4 linked regions of the Homo sapiens genome follow. The protein of the gene in region 1 purifies or fractionates together with the protein of each later gene. This does not show direct contact. Each region holds a gene or a part of one and is shown in the gene's direction. Other genes may lie near its edges.

Evidence for each region.
Region 2: the proteins of MFNG (region 1) and ITIH2 purify together in Homo sapiens (affinity purification with mass spectrometry; one large-scale study listed by BioGRID and IntAct). This does not show direct contact.
Region 3: the proteins of MFNG (region 1) and KDM8 purify together in Homo sapiens (affinity purification with mass spectrometry; one large-scale study listed by BioGRID and IntAct). This does not show direct contact.
Region 4: the proteins of MFNG (region 1) and SEC62 purify together in Homo sapiens (affinity purification with mass spectrometry; one large-scale study listed by BioGRID and IntAct). This does not show direct contact.

What each region holds. Positions count from the first base shown.
Region 1 is NC_000022.11:37,469,385-37,472,884, reverse strand, and holds part of MFNG (beta-1,3-N-acetylglucosaminyltransferase manic fringe), read left to right. Parts: intron 1-356; coding exon 357-442; intron 443-2,855; coding exon 2,856-2,922; 3' UTR 2,923-3,500. UniProt on the Homo sapiens protein: Glycosyltransferase that initiates the elongation of O-linked fucose residues attached to EGF-like repeats in the extracellular domain of Notch molecules.
Region 2 is NC_000010.11:7,720,316-7,723,815, forward strand, and holds part of ITIH2 (inter-alpha-trypsin inhibitor heavy chain H2 precursor), read left to right. Parts: intron 1-540; coding exon 541-648; intron 649-1,333; coding exon 1,334-1,462; intron 1,463-3,135; coding exon 3,136-3,252; intron 3,253-3,500. UniProt on the Homo sapiens protein: May act as a carrier of hyaluronan in serum or as a binding protein between hyaluronan and other matrix protein, including those on cell surfaces in tissues to regulate the localization, synthesis and degradation of hyaluronan which are essential to cells undergoing biological processes.
Region 3 is NC_000016.10:27,213,526-27,217,025, forward strand, and holds part of KDM8 (bifunctional peptidase and arginyl-hydroxylase JMJD5), read left to right. Parts: intron 1-59; coding exon 60-226; intron 227-1,077; exon of another isoform or gene 1,078-1,247; intron 1,248-1,350; coding exon 1,351-1,483; intron 1,484-2,419; coding exon 2,420-2,464; intron 2,465-3,500. UniProt on the Homo sapiens protein: Bifunctional enzyme that acts both as an endopeptidase and 2-oxoglutarate-dependent monooxygenase.
Region 4 is NC_000003.12:169,973,307-169,976,806, forward strand, and holds part of SEC62 (translocation protein SEC62), read left to right. Parts: intron 1-2,301; coding exon 2,302-2,410; intron 2,411-3,500. UniProt on the Homo sapiens protein: Mediates post-translational transport of precursor polypeptides across endoplasmic reticulum (ER). Proposed to act as a targeting receptor for small presecretory proteins containing short and apolar signal peptides.

The sequences.
Region 1 (3,500 bases):
AAGGCCCTCCAGTGAGTCTCAGAAAACCTCCATTCTAGTCCAGGCTTGCAGCTTACTGGAAAGCTGCCTTTTCCTGTTGAGCCTCAGTTTCCAAATCTGTAGATGGGGGTATTGTTCCAGCTTCTCAGGGGAGCTCAACTCTTGAGGGAGCAAATGGGATTAAGGGCATGGCAGTGCTCTTCCAGCTGTGAAGTGCCTTGGGGCGTGGGGTGGGCTCCCACCACCAGCGGGGAATTTCAGGTTCCCGGGCAGCTTTCCCTGCAGCTTAAAACCCCTCCTCCACCTGTGCCAGGATGCTGCCCCCTTGTGGGGATCCCCAGTGTGATGCCCCAACACTCTTCTATCTCCCTGCCCAGGTCACCCTCAGCTACGGTGTCTTTGAGGGGAAACTCAACGTCATTAAGCTACAGGGCCCCTTCTCCCCGGAGGAGGACCCCTCCAGGTGGGTCTGGGGGCTGGAACCTTGGATGGGAGGAGTGGGGGCTGAGTCCAGGCATCCAAACATGGGGGAGCTGGGAGGGAGTGGAGTGGGACAGGCTTTGGTGGCTGACAGCACAGAGCTAGGAGTGGAGGGAGTGGATTTCAGTTTCTGACCCTGCCACTGGCTTGCTGTGTGACCTTGGGCAAGTGTCTTGCCCTCTCTGGGATTCGGTCTCCCATTAGTAACACCTGGAGGCTGGCCATGATGGATCTGAAGAGCTCTCCCAGCCCCAATCCTCTGGGGTTCTTTGGGAGTCCCTGGAAGGCTGAAATGCCTTCCCTGAGCACAGGCAACGCTCTCATGGTGGAACTTCAGGCTCTGGTGGGGGATTTTTATTTTATCTCTTTTGGACTCCTTGTTTCTTTGATACTCTTAAATGCTTCTTTTAGGCAGGTAAAGGGTTGGAATAACACCTTCCAGTTCTGCCCAGAACTGGCCACGGGGAGATGGGCCACCCAAATCCGCTCCTGACTGGTCTAGAGCAGTCTTGGAGCATAGCCTGTGATATGCAGCTTCCTTTCCACACACCAGCACCTGCCAGCTGTGGCTTTTTTTTTTTTTTTTTTTTTTTTTGAGATGGAGCCTCGCTCTGTTGCCCAGGCTGGAGTGCAGTGGTGCGATCTCGACTCACTGCAACCTCCGCCCCCCGGGTTCAAACAATTCTTCTGCCTCAGCCTCCCGAATAGCTGGGATTACAGGCGCCTGCCACCATGCCTGGCTAATTTTTGTGTTTTTAGTGGAGGCGGGGTTTCACCATGTTGGCCAGGCTGGTTTCGAACTCCTGACCTCAAGTGATCCGCCTGCCTTGACCTCCCAAAGTGCTAGGATTACAGGCATGAGCCGCTGCCCCCGGCCCAGCTATGGCTTGTGATTCTGGCCAGGGGTGGCGGGATGGGGGTGGAGAGGAGTTGGGGGAGGGGACACATGGACTCTGGGCCCATCAGTCCAACCCCAGAACTGATGCTTGACCCCTTCCCAGCATCTCTGCCAACTGATGGGCTGGCTTCACCTTGCATGCCTACAGCCATGGGGAGTTCCTCCCTCCTGTGGCAGTCTGTTCCATCTCTGGGCAGCTGGACTAGCCCCAACCCTTCTATTTGCATTTCTGCTCCTTGTAGTGACATGCAATGGGTCTGGGAACTGGGGAAGGAGCCCTGATTCTGCCTTTGGAGACTTAGCAGGGACTCAGGGAGGTAACGAGTAGAGGAGGGCATGAGGTGAACTCTGGGCCCACTTGAGTGACAGAGACTTGTCCAGAGGGAGTCCTGGGGGACGGGGAGTCTGGGACACTGTGTGTGTAGGGGATGAGGGTGAGTATGCCAGTATAGGTTGTTATGGGAGAGTAAGTCAGAGCCCTGATGTTGACTGGGGAGTAGGGGCTGGCCGGGGAAGGCTTCTGTGAGGAGGTAACGTGAAGGACCTGAAGGGCTAGCAGGAGTTCGCTAGGAGAAGAGCAGGTGGCAGATCACTCCCGCAGAGGGGACAGCATATGCAAAGGCCTGATAGCAGGAGACAGGCCTTGACCTGCTCAAGGTAGGAACGGGAGACTGTGTGACTGGAATGTGGAGAAGAGGAGGGAATGGTGTCAAATTTGGTTGGGGACGTGGCAGGGGCCTCTCCAAGGCCTTTGTAGGCTCTGTCTGGACGCTTGTGATGCTTGGAGGAACCAGGGCCCCTGGCCCTGACGTTCTGCAGTGCTGCCTGTCCTGGGGCAGAGGGCTCCCATGATGCTGAGGGCCCTTGCGGCCAAGGCTGCGTTGAACAAGTTGGATATTACAAGGAGATAGAATTTGGCTCGATATAGGAACAAAAATTCAAAATTCCAAGACGAACGAAGCTGCCTTCTAGTAGGATGAGCTCCCCGTCAGCAGTGTGTAAGCCGTAGCTATACTGACAAGAGGTTTAAGAATTGCTGTTAAATTTCCTCAAAGCTTGAAGATTCTAGAAGTCATAGATTACTGCCAAATGGGTCTGGAGCCACCTAGAGATTCAGATGCATGTGATCAGATGATTGGCCTCAGCTGAGGTCTCTTTATGGCTTCTCTGGCTTTTGAAGTTTCTCCAAACTAGCGGTTCTCAAGTGGGGGTGATTTGTCTCTTAGGGGACGTCTGGCAATGTCGGAGACATTTTTGATTCTTATGATTCAGGAAGATGCTACTGGAATCTTGTGGGTAGAGCCCAGGAATGCTGTTAAATATCTCGCAAGGCACAGGACAGCTCCACAACAAAGAATTCTCTGGCCCTAAGTGTTAGTGGTGTTGAGGTAGAGAAACCCTGCTCCAAACCGCCTCTGTGGCATGTGTGCACCTAGGAGAGTGGGCTGAGAGCAGAAGTGGGGGGTGACCATCCTGTCCTTTTCTGGTCTCTCTGCAGATTTCGCTCCCTCCATTGTCTGCTCTATCCAGATACACCCTGGTGTCCCCAGCTGGGTGCCCGATGAATCCTGAACTGCTGGGCAAAGGTTGGGCAGAGACTTCTGGGTGTGCCTTGGCTCCCAAGGTGGCACTGTGGGTCCCTGGCAAGTGTCTTGTGATAGGCAGTCCCTGGCAGGGCCTTCGGGTGGTTGGCAAGCCCAGGATCTGAGTGGCAATTGGCACTGAAGGCACCCCAGGCCCCTGGGAGGTGAGTTAGACAGCCCAGGGGACCAGGTGGACCAGGTGGTGGCCAGAGAGGCTCCAGGGGCTAGACTCCCTCAGGAGGCTGAATTGAAAAAGGGCAGGGGGCACTTGAGCTGGGCTGGGGCTCAGGGGTCCTAACCCTTTAGGCAGTGACATGGCCTCTGGGTGGGGTCTGGCCGTTGGCCCTGGCTAATGTCTCTCAGTCATTCCCCTGGGGCTCAAGCGCTGGGCCGCCCACTCCTGCCTCCCTCATCTGTGTCCCGAGTTCCTGAAGGGACATGGGTGGAATGATGGCAGAATCCAGGGTCTGCAGCACCTGCTGTTGTTGCCAACCAGTCTCCCAAAGCTCCTTGCTCCCCACCCCTTGCGAACAGGACCAGATTTTGTTTGGAGCCTCAGC
Region 2 (3,500 bases), on another chromosome or scaffold:
TATAAACAAACAAATCATAGAATTAAATTTAAAAAAGAAAAAAATGGCAGCTATGACTGTGGTTTGGTCAAGAATCACCAAAGGGGATTTCCCTAGATGAGGTCTGTTCAAAGCAAGAAGACAGAGAAGAAATAAAACAACCCAAGATTTGGGGAAAATGGTCTACTTTTGACAGGTCTACAGAGTAGATGCAGTGCTATTTAACAATGAGGGAAAAAGAAGAAGGAATTCTTTTTTTCCCTAACAATGCAAATGCTCTTATAAATAAAAAGACTCGAATAGAATGAGGAAGGGAGTCGACTCCTGGGGGAGTGAGGCAGCAGAAGGAGAGCTCTGAGTCGACAGAAGGGGGTTAAGCCTCCGTGGTGAGATGAATCCCATCGCAGGAACTTGCAGATCCTGCAGGAGAGATCGTGGAGTCGTGCCCGGGAAACCTGCGGAGGAGAAAAGCATCAGAGGACTTATTTGTAATTTTACTTCTTGCTTAAAAAGACTTTAAAGACTTTTAATGCTTTGGGTAATTTTCTCTTGCATCTCTAGGTAGATGTGTGGGTTATCGAACCACAGGGACTGAGATTTCTTCATGTTCCCGACACATTTGAAGGCCATTTCGATGGTGTTCCGGTCATTTCTAAAGGACAACAGAAGGTACCCTGAGCCCTGTGTGTTGCCAGGCATTCACAGGGCCTCTGGATTGTGGGTTCTGTTCTCCTTCTGTGCTCTGGAGAAGAGAAAAGCAGGCTGGTGTTGAGGACACTGTTGAAGAAATGGGGATCCCCAAGTAGAGCCTAGGGCCTCCCCAGGATACACAGAACAACACTCCCAGTGCTTTCCTTCCATTTTGACCAGAGATTGTCCCTTTTTGAGTCTCATTTCCCCGTCAGTCACCTGCTTAACCAGTAGCTAAAGGACAGCTTTCACATCCTATATGGCAGATTTTCATTCATTAACCATAGCAAGACATGTTCAGCTCTCTGCCTCAATGACCAGCGATAACCAACTATGACTCCTGTAAGGAGAAACTCCTCTAAGAGCATTAAAACATTTCACAAACTCTTTCCAAAGCACATAGTCAGCCCTTCTACAGGGGATGAAGGAAATTCTTCGGCTTTCTTCTAAAAAGGTCTGAAACCTTGCAAACAGCATGGCAGGCTAGAGATGCTCCCTGCAAAAGCCCTGGCATGTCCTTCCCATCAGTAATGGGTCCACCGATATCGCGGGGATTCAGAACGTCCATTGGGCAGCTCCTCTTCCCTGTGTGCTGGAGAAGGGGCAGCGCCAAGCACTGGGAAGGGGCTAGAGGCAGAGGCTCTGATGTCACCGTTCTTTCTAGGCGCACGTCTCCTTCAAGCCCACGGTAGCACAGCAGAGAATATGCCCTAACTGCCGGGAGACTGCGGTAGATGGGGAACTGGTGGTGCTGTATGACGTGAAAAGAGAAGAGAAGGCTGGTGAACTGGAGGTGAGTGCACACCGGCTCTGGTTCTACTGCCAAGCTCGTGCCAAAGAGCTGCTCCTTTTTGAACAAACTCCCAGGCCTATGGGTGGTTTCTAGCTGCCAGGGCAAGTGTTTCTAGCTGCAGAGAAGGGACTAAAATCATATTCTTTGAATATACCGCTAAGCATTATCTTTTATGTATTAAAAACTAAATGAATAGGGTCTCATGCTCTTGTCCCAGGAGGGCATTCCTGGGCCTCATGTGAAGAACAAAGGAATAATTACAGAACAGGAATTTTAAATAGGCTCCCAAGGCCCTTTGCAATTAGACAATCAAAGAAAGCACAGAGATTACGGGGTGAGGAGGAAGGCGCATCCACAGCCTAGAAAGATCAAGAGCCAGCGGTGAATTTCAAGGCCAAGGTTTATCATGAAGTTTCTTGAAAAGTTTCCTTTCCCCTTCAGTCATGTCCCAGACGTGTGTCTTCCTTTCTTTGTACTAAGGTGAGGACTCTTAGAACGTACGCAAACTCCAAGAGTCTCTCTAGGGACAGCAAGCGGAGCACACACCCTGTACCTGGATGCTGTAGTTTCCTGGAAAGAGGCAGCCAAAGGGCAGAGGAAAGAGAATTAGGTGAGCCAGTCATCAAGCCTGCAGCAGAAGACAAAGAGGATGGTCAGGAGTCCAGCTGGGGCAGCCTCTCATTAACTTCAAGAAAAATCCAAATTTTCTAAAGTGGCCCATACACGTCCTTCGTGATCTGTCTTGCTGATTCTCCAACTAGTTCCCTGAATTCTTGGATTCTACGGCCCCATCTTGCTGAACCACATATGGAGCCCCAAATATGCCATGTTTTCTCATCTCTGGGGCTGCGCTGTCTGGAACTCTCTTCCCCATTCCCCACTATCTCAACCTGGCCCAGCTCTCAAGAGAGCTTCTGAGTCTGAGCTCATCCTTAGGTCCCAGTGGAGATGCTGCTTCCTAGAGAACCGTCCCCTGGGTGCGCGTTAGATGCACACGGGGCTCTTGCCGAGCCCTTTACTTCCTAATCATGGTGTTGAACACACCGCGCTGCACATTGCCTCCACTTACCCTTATCCTCTGCTGGCTGGGAGCCTCCTGACGGGAGGTGCTCTGCCTGATTCACCGCTGGTTAGCAGGGCGCCTGGAACAGGGGCTCTCTGTAAAGACTGAGTGATGTGGAGTGGAGTGGAGTGGAGTGAAGTGGCGTGGAGTGGAGTGGCGTGAAGTCGGGTGGAGTGGAGTGGCGTGCAGTGGAGTGGGGTGAAGTGAAGTGGCATGGAGTGGAGTGGAGCAGCGTGGCGTGGAGTGGAGTAGAGTGGAGTGGCGTGGTGTGGTGTGGAGCGGAGTGCCCTGGCATGGCGTGGAGTGGCGTGGCGTGGAGTGGTGTGACGTGGAGTGGAGTGGCATGGTGTGGAGAGGAGTCAAGTGGAGTGGAGCGGTGTGGAGTGAAGCAGCGTGGAGTGGAGTGGAGCGGAATGTTCTGCTAGGAAGGTCTTGACCCTCAGAGGAGAGGAGGTGGGGGAGCAGGCAGGAAAATGTGGAGGCAAATGCACATCAAGCTCCGCCTCCTCCTCCCTGTAGACCCCTCTCTTCTCTGAGTCCCCAGGTCCCCATCTTCCTACCTTCTAAACACGAATCATGATTTGACTCACAAATACCTTCTATTTTTCAGGTGTTTAATGGATATTTTGTCCACTTCTTTGCTCCTGACAACCTGGACCCAATTCCCAAAAACATCCTCTTTGTCATCGATGTGAGTGGCTCCATGTGGGGAGTTAAAATGAAACAAGTAAGTACCCCCTTGTTTGCAGTGGTTGGGGGGATTCCCTATCTTCTTTGATCCCCTCCTAAAAATGCAATCATTCTATCCCTCCTCCCTGCTTAGGGCTGAAGCTCAGGGACTGTGGTTACAGACTGCCGGTGTCAACTCTTCCTAAAATTTTGCTATTATTGCATTTCACAGGACATACACCTCCGTCTTCTAATCATTCCTCTAGTGTAAAATTCCCTTCCTTCTCTTCTTCCTCTTTCCTGTTT
Region 3 (3,500 bases), on another chromosome or scaffold:
ACCTCAAATGTCGACTTCCTGAGGTGGTTGCTATTTTGTTCTGTTTTGATTTTAAACAGAAAGCAAGGGCGGACCATGGTTTGATTCCAGATGTGAAGTTAGAAAAAACAGTCCCCCGGCTGCACCGTCCGTCCCTCCAGCATTTCAGGGAGCAGTTTTTGGTTCCAGGGAGGCCCGTGATCCTGAAAGGCGTGGCTGACCACTGGCCGTGCATGCAGAAGTGGAGGTGGGTGGTCGCTGAGGGAGGTGAGGTCCCTTTTCCCATTTTAGCGTTCCCCAGGGCTCCCTGAATTCCTCCCGACCATCCCCAGGGAAATGCAACCTTGTAGATGCTTCACTAGCAGCCCTTGACTGATTGCCAAGGGGTTAAAAAAGAGTGAAAAGTAAGGTGCTCTGAATTTATGCCGCAGGTTATGGGATTCTTACCTTCTACCTTGCTCGCCTTAAGCGGTTTTTTAATGAGTCCCTAAGTGGCAGTCCTAGAATGTTTCTGTTATGCAATTTTACAGGATCCTAGCAATTTCAGACCATCTCAGGGCCCTGAAGCTAAGAGCAGAAATAACCCAAGAGACAGCCCCTCTCTCTCTGAGGGATTCTGTGGTCTCTTGTGTTTGTTTCTAGTCCTTTCTCAGAATCATGATGGGGAGATCAGATCAGGCAGCTGGAGCGTGGCTGTCATGCCGCGGCTCTGCATGAGTTTGGAAATAAGGAGGCATCTCTCCAGGAAGGTAGATGGAGTCCGCCTGTTTTGTGGTTTCGCGGAGGGAATGGTACCCGCTGACACATGTGGAGGAATTCTCATTGCAGGAGCTCTCCTCACAGCAAGGCTTCATTAAGCATTTTACTACGTACCTGGCACTAGGACAGGTGTTGTCATCACCCCCATTCTGTAAATGGGGATCAAGGACTCGGGTTCAGTAACCTGCCTCAGATCCCCTGGCCTGTAACTGATGAGGCCTGGAATCAGTCCCAGGCTAGAGGGCAGAGTCCAGGAGACTGCCACCTGCCACGCTGTCCGCTATTTGTTCAAAGGTTTCTCAGCTTAGTGACAAAATGAGCAAAGAAAGAAGTGAGGAGGCTGTTGGCAAGCAGGGAACTAGAGCAGCCCAGCCAACCAGACTTACCGGCCCTGTCTGCAAAGCTGCACAGCACTGTGTATGAGCCACACAGCCTTGAGCAGGGAGCCCCACCTCTCCATGCCGGTTCCTCATCAGTGAAGCTGGGGATGACAGTCCTTGTCTCTGCACGTGAGGTTTTCCGAGGATGAAAGGGGACCACATGCAAAGCACACTTAGTACTATGCCCAACAGATATTAGCAGTGACGATGCCAATGTGTGTCTTTCTGCTAGTTTGGAGTATATCCAGGAGATCGCTGGCTGCCGAACTGTCCCAGTGGAAGTTGGTTCGAGGTACACAGATGAGGAATGGTCCCAGACCCTCATGACGGTCAACGAGTTCATCAGCAAATACATCGTGAATGAGGTACATCATGGGGACTGCTTTCCCCTAGTACTTGCAAGGCAGAGAGCATAGTACATTTAGGCAAATAACCCCCCATGTGTTGTAATGGGAGGTTTTGGAGGAGCCAGGCTGTAAGTCTGTGGTCGGAGGGACGACCGCAGCGAGGAAGGCAGGCTGCTTAGCCAGCAGACATGAGGGATTCATGTCAGGTCCTTTTTAATGGGCAGGGGAGTATAATTCAGTGGGTTTTAGCCTGTTCCAAAAGTTGGACAGCTAAGTCTAGAGTATGTGTATTTAAATTTTTAATAGCAGCCAGGCATGGTGGCTCACACCTGTAATCCCAGCACTTTGGGAGGCTGAGGCAGGCGGATCACTTGAAACCAGGAGTTCAAGACCAGCCTGGGAAACATAGTGAAACCCTGTCTCTATAAAAAATATAAAAATTAGCTGGGTATAGTGGTACGTGCCTGTAATCCCAGCTACTCAAGAGGCTGAGGTGGGGCAAATTGCTTGAGCCCAGGAGGCAGAGGTTGCAGTGAGCCAAGATCAGGCCACTGCATTCCAGCTTGGACAATAGAACCAGGCCCTGTCAAAATTACGACAGGACAGGATAGGACAATTTATTTTTCCCAAAAGTTAGATCACTTATACTTTCACCAGCAATTAACACAAGTGTCCATTTTCTTACATCTTTGCCTGCACTGTTTGTTGCCATTTTATGAAAATGTTTGCCAATCAGATGGATGAGATCAGTGCTTTACAAACTGGGTACCCCGGTGCTGGAGAGGTTCTTTGAAGCTGCCCCAGGGCCTCTAAGGGTTGGAGAGGACCACTCAGGATGGAGTGGAAGGGTGACGGGTGCTGCAGCTGGGGCCAGCTGGACAGCAGCAGCAGGAGGGCATCTGTCATGACTAACTGGGCTTTCTGTGTTGCCTCTGGTTTTCCCCGGTGGATTAGCCAAGGGACGTCGGGTACCTTGCTCAGCACCAGCTCTTTGACCAGGTAAGTCTGAGGCCACGCACCTCTGCCCCTCACCGTCTCACCTTCCCCTCTCCTCCCCTCCTGGGCTCAGTGCGGCTGGAGCAGTGAGCGTGAGTAGGAGGGAGGCAGCAGGTGAGGCTAGGAAGGTGACAGGACGTGGGTGATGAGGAGCCATTTTCCTAAAGTGACAGGAAACACTGGGGGGTCGCCAGTGCCCCGAGGATTGTAGGGGCTGCTATTCAGAGATGAAGGGAGCAGCTGTCGGAGCGGGTGGCTGGCTGGGCTATTGCTGTGGTGCAAGGAGAGGTGATGCTGGCAGGTGGAGCAGTTCAAGACCGGTGTGAACCACCGAGCCCTGGACGTGGGTGGATGTGTGGGGGAGGGAGGGAAGATCGGGGAAGATGCCCAGATTCAGGACCCCAAAACACTAAATAGATGGAGCTGGGGCGCCCAGGAGGGACCTGGCTGGTGTGGTGTCTGCCAGGAGTGCCCAGGAAGGCAGCCCTTGGCAGGATTCAAGGATAGGGCCAGGTGCGTGTCCCGAACGTGGAAGACTCGAGTCAGTCAGGGTCAGGGCTACAGCCAGGGGTGGGCTGGGGCCGCACCTCTGTAGCCTTTGCAGTGGGGCCCTGGGATGCTGATCAGCTGCTGTATCTACTGCTGAAGCCAGGACTGCTTCTCTGTCTCGATGGGGGACCCAGGGCCAGTAGGGGCTGTGCCAGGAGCCTTCATGCCGACATTAAAGGACGCTGGCGGTTTCTCTTCCCCAGGCCTCCCTATTAGGACCTGTGCATCCTGCGTCCTGTCCATGTCACTTGCTAAGTGAAGGAAAGGGGGATTCTAATTGATCAGGTCCCTACTGTGTGATCCCGAGACCCACCTTTCTCCTGACCCTGGTCATCCTGGGGGCATGGCCTCAGTGTGGGCTGGGGACCCTGGAAGCCATGGTTAACCTTGGCTCCCTGTCCTGGAGCAGCTGTTTCATACTTTGTAGGACAGGAGGAGTTATATTTAGGAGTAGAAGGCCAAGTTCACAGTGACTTTCAAGATGAGCCAG
Region 4 (3,500 bases), on another chromosome or scaffold:
ATGAATCTTGTAGTTGTTCCTGAACTTGGAGTGTTAAATTTTGAATTTGCCATTTTTTAAGGTTCCAGTTTTTTGCTGGGCGTGGTGGCTTACGCCTGTAATCCCAAGACTTTGGGAGACTGAGGCATGCAGATTATCTGAGGTCAGGAATTCGAGACCAGCCTGGCTAACATGGTAAAATCCCATCCCTACAAAAAATACAAAAAATTAGCCGGACATGGTGGTGGGCACCTGTAATCCCAGCTACTCGGGAGGCTGAGGCATGAGAATCGCTGGAACTCAGGAGGTGGGGGTTGCAGTGAGATGAGATAGCACCATTGCACTCCAGCCTGGGAGACAGAGCAAGACTGCGTCTCAAAAAAAAAAAAAAAATCTACTTTTTGTGATACGTATTTTCATATATAAAAGTTTTAATTTCATAAATACTTGGTTTTTATAGTAGCCTTCTTTTGGGTTGAGTGATTTGGGCTCTTAATTTTTATTGCCACAAATAGCCCACAGCTGGTAGTTGCAGACTGTAGGAATTGTACACTGGTATGATCTTACACAGGTAATTGGGCTACTGGAAGTAGAGGACTTGCGAAATACAAAGGAAGAAATGAGAGATGTACCTGCCAGGAGACTCAGTAACCAAAACAAAAACTTCCACTTCATCTAACAAATTATTCCTTTTTGGGATAAAGTTAAAGCTGAAACGTAGGTTTGTTGGTTGTTCTTTATTTTCCTCAAACATAACTTAATTCAGACTTCTCTTAACTTTGGAAAAACCCAACATAGATAAGTTGGATAGATTCTTTTTTCTATTTTGCATCATTAGATTTTTTTTGCTTGAAACAGCTGTCTTTAGCATTAATTCTTAGCATCTTAGATTCTTGCCAGATTATTTTTTACTATTATTTGTCATTTTATTCTTTAATGAAGCAGCCCTTCCTGAAATCATTCACATTTAGATTATATGTTGCTGGAAATACTGAATGTTCTGTGTATTGTGCTTAAGCATGCAATTATAGACAGTAATTAAGTACAGTGCATTTGTTTCAATAGCTTACAGCAATAAGACAGCTTTTGAAAGTTTATACATAAGATGTATACAAAGATAGACTGCCTTCATTTTCTTCAGTACGTGAGTAGGGAAAATAAATTCACAGGAGGAATTGTCAAAGAAGTTCAGAATGAAAGGGAATAAAGGGAAGATGGGGAATGAGAAACAATGAAGAAAATAATAGAAAATTTGGGAAAAGATATAGAAGAAAGAAAGCAGAGAAGGATTAAAACGGCCTTTCCAAAACGACTCTTTGTCAGTGCACTTCCATTAATCACCTCTTCAAATGAGATAGTAATAACTCTTTTTGCATTTTTCATTTTTGCCTCACCCTTACTGGAGAAGAGAAGATGAGAAAGACAGTCCCAGGAGTGTCTGGTATCTGCAGCCACAGGGGGAAAGGAAAGAGAATACAAATTGTCATTGTGTCAGTAGTTCTTATGGCTACCACATTGGGGGCAGCTGTCATTGATTAATTTGAGAACTCCTTCTGCGATCTGTTGTCCATTGTTCAGGATACATATCTTTGGCTGTTATTTTAACATTTATTTATGACACTTGTTTCTACTTACTTTGACATTTGGATACTCACTATTAGCAACATCTTATCTTTTTAATTACTGTTTTGTGGCTTATAAAAAGAGACTATAGGCCGGTGACGATGGCTCACGCCTGTAATCCCAGCACTTTGGGAGGCCTAGGCTGGCGGATCACTTGAGGTCAGGAGTTCAAGACCACCCTAGCCAACGTGGCGAAACCCTGTCTCTACTAAAAATACAAAAATTAGCTGGGCATGGTGGCAGGCACCTGTAATACCAGCTACTTGGGAGGCTGAGGCAGGAGAGTCACTTGAACTCAGGAGGCAGAGGTTGCAGTGAGCCGAGATCGCACCACTGCACTCTAGCCTAGGCAACAGAGTGAGACTCCATCTCAAAAAAAAAAAAAAAAAAGACCGTATAAGAATGAAAGTGAACTGGTACAAAGTAGTTACCATTGTGGAAAAAACAACTCAAATGCCTCATAGTTGAAGCCAAGAAGCAGACAGGCTTTGCCTCTATCAACTTATATTTGAAAAACGTAGTTTCTTTAAATCTCCATTTTTGTCTTTTGAATACTTTATTAGGTCGCTCCAGAGAAAGCTTGAAAGCAAGGCCTGTACTCCACTTGAAAAGATTCATAAAATAGATTTGTAAATTATTATTCAGCGCATGAATTTCTCAAGTATATGATTATACTAAATTAATATTCATATGTTGCAGGAAGTTGGTGAACCATCTAAAGAAGAGAAGGCTGTGGCCAAGTATCTTCGATTCAACTGTCCAACAAAGTCCACCAATATGATGGGTCACCGGGTTGATTATTTTATTGGTAGGATTATATCAGTAAAATCGTATTAGTGTACATATGTTATGAAGTTAACCTACATTTGGGATATGTAGAAGTTTTAAAAGTGCTTTCCAAATGTGATTGTTCTGGTGATGGACATATGGCAGTTGATTATTCTGTTCTTTTCTTTTATGATTGAAAATGTCTATAATAAAAAGATAACATGTTTTCTAATAACAATTGTTGGAAATTTTTTTAAATAGGATTTATTTTCAGTGTTTTAAAATACTACCTTTTGTTTAGATAGTATGCGTACTTGGAACTAAGAGCACTGGCTTTTTTTCCCCAAACAATGTCATTATAAGCTGATGTCATTTATAACACCAGAGCTTATAAGTAGGGGTTGAGTTTGCCTTTCTCATCAATTAAAAGTGAATTGCAGCTGGGTGTCGTGGCTCACACCTATAGTACCAACACTTTGGGAAGCCAAGGCAGGAGGGTTGCTTGAGGCCAGGAGTTCGAGACCAGCCTATGCAACACAATGAGACCCCATCTCTACAAAAAAATTAGATGAGTATGATGGCATGCGCCTCTGAAGTGAGAGGATGGCTTGAGCCCAGGAGTTAGAGGCTGCAGTTAACTATGATCCCACCACTGTACTCCAGCCTGGGTGACAGAGCAAGAACCTGTCTCTTAGAAGAAAAAAAAAACTAAATTGCCAGTGTAGAGGAAAAGTCCTTTATCGTCTCTTTCTTTACTGTTTTTAATGATTTGACATTCATTACAAGTTTTAAAAAGTAGATGTGCTAATCTCTTCAGATATAATATGTTTAGCTGTTTCTTGTGACAGCAGTGGATTGTTGACAGAGCTTCTTCCTCAGTGTATTAGAGTAAAACTTGATGAGAATTTTTATTACTTGCAGGGAGTGGTGAACATTTTGGTTTATCTACATATGCTTGTGATTAATAAGAGTGATAGTTACATACAGATATTTTAAATTTTTGAATATTTCCCCATTAATTTAACTTGCTTTAGTTGGTCTTTCTGAATGCCATTATTTCCCAACATTACTTTTAAAAGATACTTAATATAGTTCACAAGTTGAGGTTTTGGGGAACTACTAATCATGAT